Homo sapiens: one gene and its partner. The protein of the gene in region 1 interacts with the protein of each later gene in a biochemical or structural test. Each region holds a gene or a part of one and is shown on either strand. Other genes may lie near its edges.

Region 1 (3,422 bases):
CACTCATCTTTATTATGGATTCACACTCATCTTTATTATTGATTCACACTCTCAGCTTTATTATTGATTCACACTCTTATTAGATTCACACTTTATTACTGACTCACACTCTTACCTTTATTGATTCACACTCATCTTTATTATTGATTCACACTCTCAGCTTTATTATTGATCCAGTCATCTTTATTATTGATTCACACTCAGCTTTATTATTGAGTCACACTCATCTTTATTATTGATTCACACTCATCTTTATTGATTCACACTCATCTTTATTATTGATTCACACTCTCAGCTTTATTATCGATTCACACTCTTTATTATTGATTCACACCCATCTTTATTATTGATTCACACTCTCAGCTTTATTGAGTCACACTCTTATTAGATTCACACTCTTTATTGACTCACACTTTATTATTCACACTCATCTTTATTGATTCACACTCTCAGCTTTATTATTGATTCACAGACATCTTTATTATTGATTCACACTCAGCTTTATTGATTCACACTCATCTTTATTATTGAGTCACACTCATCTTTATTATTGATTCACACTCATCTTTATTATTGAGTCACACTCTCAGCTTTATTATTGATTCACACTCAGCTTTATTATTGATTTTCACTATCAGGTTTATTATTGATTCACACTATCAGCTTTATTATTGACTCACACTCAGCTTTATTGAGTCACACTCTCAGCTTTATTATTGAGTCACACTCTCAGCTTTATTGATTCACACTCTCAGCTTTATTATTAATTCACACTCAACTTTATTATTGATTCAGACTTTTAATTATTTTTTTTCTTCTGGTTATTCTAGGTTTTATTTGGTCTTTTTATAGTTTTTAAGACGGAAACTGAGGTTATTGATTTGAGACTTTTCTTATTTTCTAATATAGACACTTTAGTACTATTAATTTCCCTCTACCTCTACAACCTACAAATTTTAATATATTATACATTCATTTTTATTCAGCTGAACATAATTTCTAATTTCTCTTTTTACTTATTTGAAGATGAGTAATTTAGAATGTATTATTAATTTCCAAGAATTTGGGAATTTTCTGGATACCTATTATTGATTTCTAATTGTGGTCAGAACTCTTATATAAAATGAAAATTCTAAATTTATTGACTCTTGTTTATTTCTGGATCTGAGACACCTGCTAACTCACAGATTGGAGCAGCTTGGGGGATGGAGACACTATCTCAGTGAGTTGCGTGTGCAGTGCCCCAGCCACAGGGCCTGGCACATGGTTAGTACTCACTGGACATTAGCAGCGAGTATCGTTTTGAGGAAGACCAGTGGGAGGTGATGAGTTCAGTTCCAAGCAGGGAACATTTGGGGAAGCAGCAGTATGGAAGCCAGAAAGGACAGCCCCACTGGCCACTGGGGTTGGGTTGGAGCTCAGCTGGGAGAGCAGATGTCGGAGCTCACATGGTTGGATGCAGGATGCGGTGGACATGAAGCCACCTGTGGGGCGAGCCACACTAGAGCTAGAATACCCCTCAGCTCCATGATGATGGTCAGGAGAGGGCAGCTTTGCTGGACCGCAGGGGGACTGGGCCAGCTCAAGCAGAATGACACCTGCTGCTTCCTGGTCCTGCAGGGGAACTTCTGTCCTCTGCCTGTCCCCTGAGGGAGCGTGGTGGCTTTTCACAGCAGCCCTAACGGAGTCTCGCCGTGTTTCATTTCCAGACTGGAAGAAGCGCTTCATCGGCATACGGATGCGGACGATCACACCAAGGTGAGTGTCTGAAGAGTGCCATCCCCTGCTACCCCTTCCTCTCATCCCTCACCCTGACCCTCCCTCCAGACCCTGGCTGGCTGTGTTCGGCTCCTTGCAGGTGCCCAGACGGGCCGATGCACTCAGGCCTCTGACCGTTGCTCAGGCCAGTCCTTTTGCGTGGACCTTTCCCTCTTTGCCTTATAGATTCCTTCTGCTCTTTCAGGACGCTATCTCTTTCCATGGCTGCTATAACAAATTACTATAAGCCTGGTGGCTTAAAACAGCAGAAATGTGTTCCCTCTCAGTTCTGGAGGTCGGGGATCTGAAGTCAAGGGGTCGGCAGGGCTGCACTCTGCCTCTGAGGCTCCAGGGAAAGCTACTTCCTTGCCCCTTCCAGCTTCTGCTGGCTCCAGGCATCCTTGGCTTGTGGCTGCCTCCCTGCAGTCTCTACCTCTGTCTTCACTTGACCTTCTTTCTCTCTGAGTATCTGTGTGCACATCTCTCTCTCGTTTCTCTTATGAAAACATCCATCATTGGAGTTAGGGCCCACTCTAAACCAAGAAGGTCTCTTCTCAAGATCTTCAACTAATGACATCTATAAAGGTCCTATTTCCAAACAAGGTCACATTCTGAGGCTCTGGGTGTACACGAATTTGGGGGAACACCATTCTGCATTCCCAGGACACTCAAGTGGCAGAAGGTGCCTCCTCATAGCACACAGAGCCCTGGCCTCCCTCTCCAGCCTTGAACTCATCCTGCTGTGTCGGAATCACCTGTGGTGGGACCGCCCCACCCCATCCTGCCTCCTCGGCTGTCAGCTCCTTGGGAGCAAGGACTGTGACCTACTTATTCCTCCACTCTGCCCCAAAAGCAGGTCCACTGCAGAGCAGGTGCCTGGAAATGCTGAATGAGTGCAAGAAAGAAGGGGCTGGGGGAGAGGAAGCAGGGGCAGGATAGAAGGGAGGCTGGAAGTACAAACTTGAGCTTCGAGGTTTGAAGAAGGGAGAGGTCACTGCATCGGGAGCCTAGGAAGAACTCGAGAATGCTCAAGTGACCATTTCCTCAAAGCACACAGTCCCTAAAGCTGTCATTCCTCCTGTTTCACCAACTCTGCTAATCTAGGGGTGACATTTGAAAAAAATTATCAATGTCCAGTATGCCAATTTATCTTTTGTTTTCTGTCTCTTTTATCTGTCTGTCCATCCCACCTCTGTCCAGTCTTCTGTCTGTCTGTTCCATGACTCAGCATTGTCTGTTCATTCCATGACTCAGCATTGTCTGTCCGTTCCGTGACTCAGCATTGTCTGTACGTTCCGTGACTCAGCATTGTCTGTCCATTCCATGACTCAGCATTGCCTGTCTGTCCATTTCTCCTTCTATCCACCCATCCAGCATCATTCCTTCATTCATCCATCCATCCATCCATCCATCCATCCTCCCGCCCCTCCTCCCACCTGTCTACCCACTCTCTCTCCTCTCTTCACGCTTCTAACCAGCTATTGCTACCACGTTTCTCTTAAGAAGCACATCTGGTAGGGGACACAGAGTGGCCAGTGGTGGGACAGGGCAGTATGGGGGCCCAGAGGTGGCTCCTCTTCTGGTCTGGTGCTGGAGGGAGGGAGGGGCAGCTTCATACCAAAGAGCTGGGCAAAGGCTCAGGGGAGGGGCCTTGACGGCAGACT
Region 2 (4,069 bases), on another chromosome or scaffold:
GACAAAGCAGCTAATGGCATTTTGAAAAGTGCTGTAGCAACAAAATATGGAACTATCACCAACAAAATCCCCCCTTTAGGTAATAAAAACCTTTTACCGGGAGATGGGCCTTGGGTTTTCAGACCCACTACTGACTTGACAGGCAGAGGATGCAGTTCCAAATGTGGATTTGGAGCTGGGCTTTGGGCATCTCTCTCCCCCCTCAGCTCCTGTTTCCTTACTCATTAAGTGGGGGGTCATTCCTGCTGGACGCCTGTCTAGGGTCCTTGTTTGGGGGCGGTCAAAGGAGATCAGAGAGCACAGACGGGAATGTGCTTTGCAAACATGAAAGAGGGCTAGAAAGGAGGAGGAGGGACTTGGGGAAGGTGGCCAGCCAAGGGGGGAAAGGAACCTTTGGCCTGAGCACTGGTCTTAGTCTGGGCTGGAGAGTTTAGTTTGCCTGCTGGGGAGAGGGGAGGTGTCTCCTATGAGGTAGGGTTTCACCTTGAGACATAAGGTGTCAGAGAAGAAACTCTGATGGAAGAAGCTCTAAGAGGCTCCAAGTGTGGGCAGAGAAGGAAGCGGGCCAAAGGACCTGGGCTTGGCCCTGGAATCAGCCCCTCATCACTGTCTTCCCAGGCAATCCCATCTGCCATGAAAGGACCTTGGCAGAGGCAGCTCCAGTGGGCTCCAGGGTCACCTTCATGACAAGACTTGCCGCCACAGGCTCACCTGCACATCTATAGCACCAATGCCCCCACCCTTAGGCTGCAGATTCCTGGTCTCGCCCCCAGGGAAAGCAGGCTTGACACCACCCAGCACCCAGACCAAGACAGGTCTCAGCCTGCTACAGAGGGAAAAAAGCAAGTTGACTAGAACCCTGTTCTGCCTTCCCATTCAGACTGTCAGAGCATCTGCCACAGCCCAGGGAGGGGGCTGATCCCACATACGGAGCCCCCACCCCAGGCCTTTGGAGGAAGCCTGGGGATCAGGAGGCCTTGTTTGGAGTCCTGGCTCTGCCCAAGCTCACAGTGCTTCCACAGCCAATCACCTAACCGGGCTGGGACTGTTTGACCATCTGTAAAATAAAAGGAGCTGGACTTGGTTCACAGGTCTCCACAGCGCAGGACTGTGATCAGGAAAGAGTTAATGGAGGCCAGGATCTGCCTCAGGAAGGCGAGGGTTAATTTGGGGGGCGGGGGGTGGAGGCTTTCTCTGCTTTTCCTGTGGAGAGTGAGGTTTGGCTGCCACCAAAGTTACTTCTAGTCCTTGCTGTCCACTCCTGCCCTCAGTCTGGACCTGCCCAAGGACCCCTGCAATTAGGCCTCCCATGCAGAGGTGAGTGTACCCTGAGCCCAGGGCTGGGGTAAGAAGGAACCCAGGGGCCTGAGGGCAGGGAGACTGGTGCCAAACTAGTGAGCCTAAAAGATGGCCCATGCCCAGAGCAGAAGCCTTGGGCAGAGTTGAGACCACAAGTTTCAGGACTGGGAGAAGGCAGGCAAAGGAATGGAGGGCCCGAGGCTGCCTGCCAGGCTTCTAGGGCGGGATGTCTGAGGTCCGGCCTCCAGGCTAGCCCAGAAGGCAGGGAAGAGGCTGTGGATGACAGACTATTTTGGTCCTTGTGATTAGGAACTTTTTATAGTCTCCCTGCTCAGGGCTGGGGAGAAGAGGAGAGGACAGAGGGCACCCATGGGGTCAGACAAGCAGTGCCTTCCTGGGACCTTGGAATCTGACCCACTGCCAAGGAGACTCCCTGGGAGACAGGGAGGGGGACACTGCCAGACTCTCCTTGGTTCCCAGGCCTCAACTACCTATGAGCAGACTGACTACACACTAGATGCTGGGTGCAGGGGTGGGCTGGACCTGGCAGGGTCTCTGCCCCAAGGCCTCTCACAGACTCCTTCCCCACTTCCCTGGCTAATTCTGTTCCTTTGTTGTCCCCAGATCCAAGGTCCCTCAGCCTCCAGGACTCAGGGGGAGTAGGGGAAGATAGGGGTGGGGTCGGGTGTGCAGGGCCATGTGGGTGGCCCATTCTGTTACTGCCAAGAGAACTGTCAGCTCTTGATTTACAACCCCTCCTCGCTCCTTGCCCCAGCAGAAGGGAGGTGGAAAAGGGTCATGAGGTCTTAGGATAAAAAAGGGACAAGGACCCTGGGGGCAAATTTCTGGGAGTGGGAGCGCAGGTTATTAGGAAGAATTAGTGGAAGGAACTTTTTAGTGAGGCAAGGGGCCCATTTCTAACGGAAATTGCTTGGTTTTATAGCAGCGGGAATACACGCAAAATATCAGTGAGTTCTTTTTTTTTTTCTTTTTTTTTTTTTGAGACGGAGTCTCGCTCTGTTGCCCAGGCTGGAGTGCAGTGGTGCGCGATCTCGGCTCACTGCAACCTCCGCCTCCCAGCTTCAAGCGATTCTCCTGCCTCAGCTTCCCAAGTAGCTGGGATTACAGGTGTGCGCCACCCCGCCTGGCTAATTTTTGTATTTTCAGTAGAGATGGGGTTTTGCCATGTTGGCCAGGCTGGTCTGGAACTCCTCACCTAAGGTAATTCACCCACCTCGGCCTCCCAAAGTGCTGGGATTACAGGCATGAGCCATCGCGCCTGGCCTCAGTGGGAAGTTCTGATAGGCAAGTGAGAGATCCAATCTGAACTGCAAGGCAAGAAACCTGGGTGACAAAGCAAGACTCCGTCTAAAGAAAAAAAAAAAAGAAACCTGGGTTCCAGTCCTGGCTCCTAACTCTCAATAGGACCTGAGCAAGCCCCCCTCCTCTCCAAGCCAGTTTCCTCTTCATGAAATGGAAATGCAAAGGTTAAACAAGGTGATGTTTACAGTTTGGCATTCTGCGATCCCCTTGGCAGGGGCAGAGTAGCTGGCAGTAGCTGATAGGGCCTGGGGACCACCTCCCTCTCCTGCCCCGATGGCCCTGCTGGGCCTGGGCAGGGCAGTTGGCTGCAATTACTGGAGGCTCCTACCCTGTGGTTATATCCCCGACCTCGGTGTTTGGGGGCGGGAAGGGTGGGCCCTGCTGGAGCCAGCCTGTGGCTGGGAGCCTTCTTGTCTTGGGCTCAAAGCTGCTGGGTTGGGAAGAGGTATTTTTTCCGGTTGAAGCCACTTTCAGGAATTGGGCCGGGACCAGCCCTGTTTCCTTTTCCAAGTGTCCTGCTTGCTAAGGCCTGCTTGCACGACCCTGTGGCCAGATTGGGGCACCTTCAAAGGGGAATATGTTTCTGAGTGGCCAGAGAGACCCCACTCAATGTCTCTGAAGGACAGGGAAAGGGGATGGCCTGAGCCTCTGCTCCCTGGATGTGGCACCGGCTAACCTGGATGGGAGAGGGTGGCTGACTGATCCTATACTGAGGAATGCCGGCAGGAGAGGACCAGGGGCATTTCCTACCCTTCCCCTGACCTTCCTCTCTCCCTGCAGGTCAGTGAGAGCCCAAGCCAATTGCTCTAGGCCCCGTGGCTGGCTACTTATGGGGCACTGTCCTGACCAGCTCTGCTAAGATGCTCCTGGCCCCTCCCTCCACCCCGTCCAGAGGACGGACCCCCAGCGCCGTGGAGAGGCTGGAAGCCGACAAAGCCAAGTATGTCAAGACGCACCAGGTGATAGCTAGGCGACAGGAGCCAGCCCTGCGTGGGAGTCCTGGGCCGCTCACGCCGCACCCCTGCAACGAGCTGGGGCCCCCTGCATCGCCCAGGACGCCCAGGCCGGTCCGCCGGGGAAGCGGCAGGCGGCTGCCGAGGCCTGATTCCCTCATCTTCTACCGCCAGAAGCGGGACTGCAAGGCTTCGGTGAACAAAGAGAACGCCAAGGGCCAGGGTCTGGTGCGGCGCCTCTTTCTGGGTGCCCCGCGGGACGCTGCCCCGAGCAGCCCGGCCTCCACAGAGCGACCTGCGGCTTCAGGGGGTTGGGCTGCGCCCCAGGATGCCCCGGAAGCGGCGGGAAAGCGGGCGCTGTGTCCCACGTGCTCGCTGCCCCTGTCGGAGAAGGAGCGCTTCTTCAACTACTGCGGCCTGGAGCGCGCGCTGGTGGAGGTGCTGGGCGCAGAGCGCTTCTCCCCGCAGAGCTGGGGAGCCGACGCCAGCCCGCA

Evidence for each region. Proteins that work in one complex are often made in the same cells at the same time.
Region 2: the proteins of HTRA3 (region 1) and FAM110D interact in a test that uses a peptide from one of them, tested with the Homo sapiens proteins (one large-scale study listed by IntAct).

The regions. Positions count from the first base shown.
Region 1 is NC_000004.12:8,300,754-8,304,175, forward strand, and holds part of HTRA3 (serine protease HTRA3 isoform 1 precursor), read left to right. Parts: intron 1-1,709; coding exon 1,710-1,758; intron 1,759-3,422. UniProt on the Homo sapiens protein: Serine protease that cleaves beta-casein/CSN2 as well as several extracellular matrix (ECM) proteoglycans such as decorin/DCN, biglycan/BGN and fibronectin/FN1.
Region 2 is NC_000001.11:26,157,810-26,161,878, forward strand, and holds the start of FAM110D (protein FAM110D), read left to right. Parts: upstream 1-1,269; 5' UTR 1,270-1,317; intron 1,318-3,402; 5' UTR 3,403-3,482; coding exon 3,483-4,069.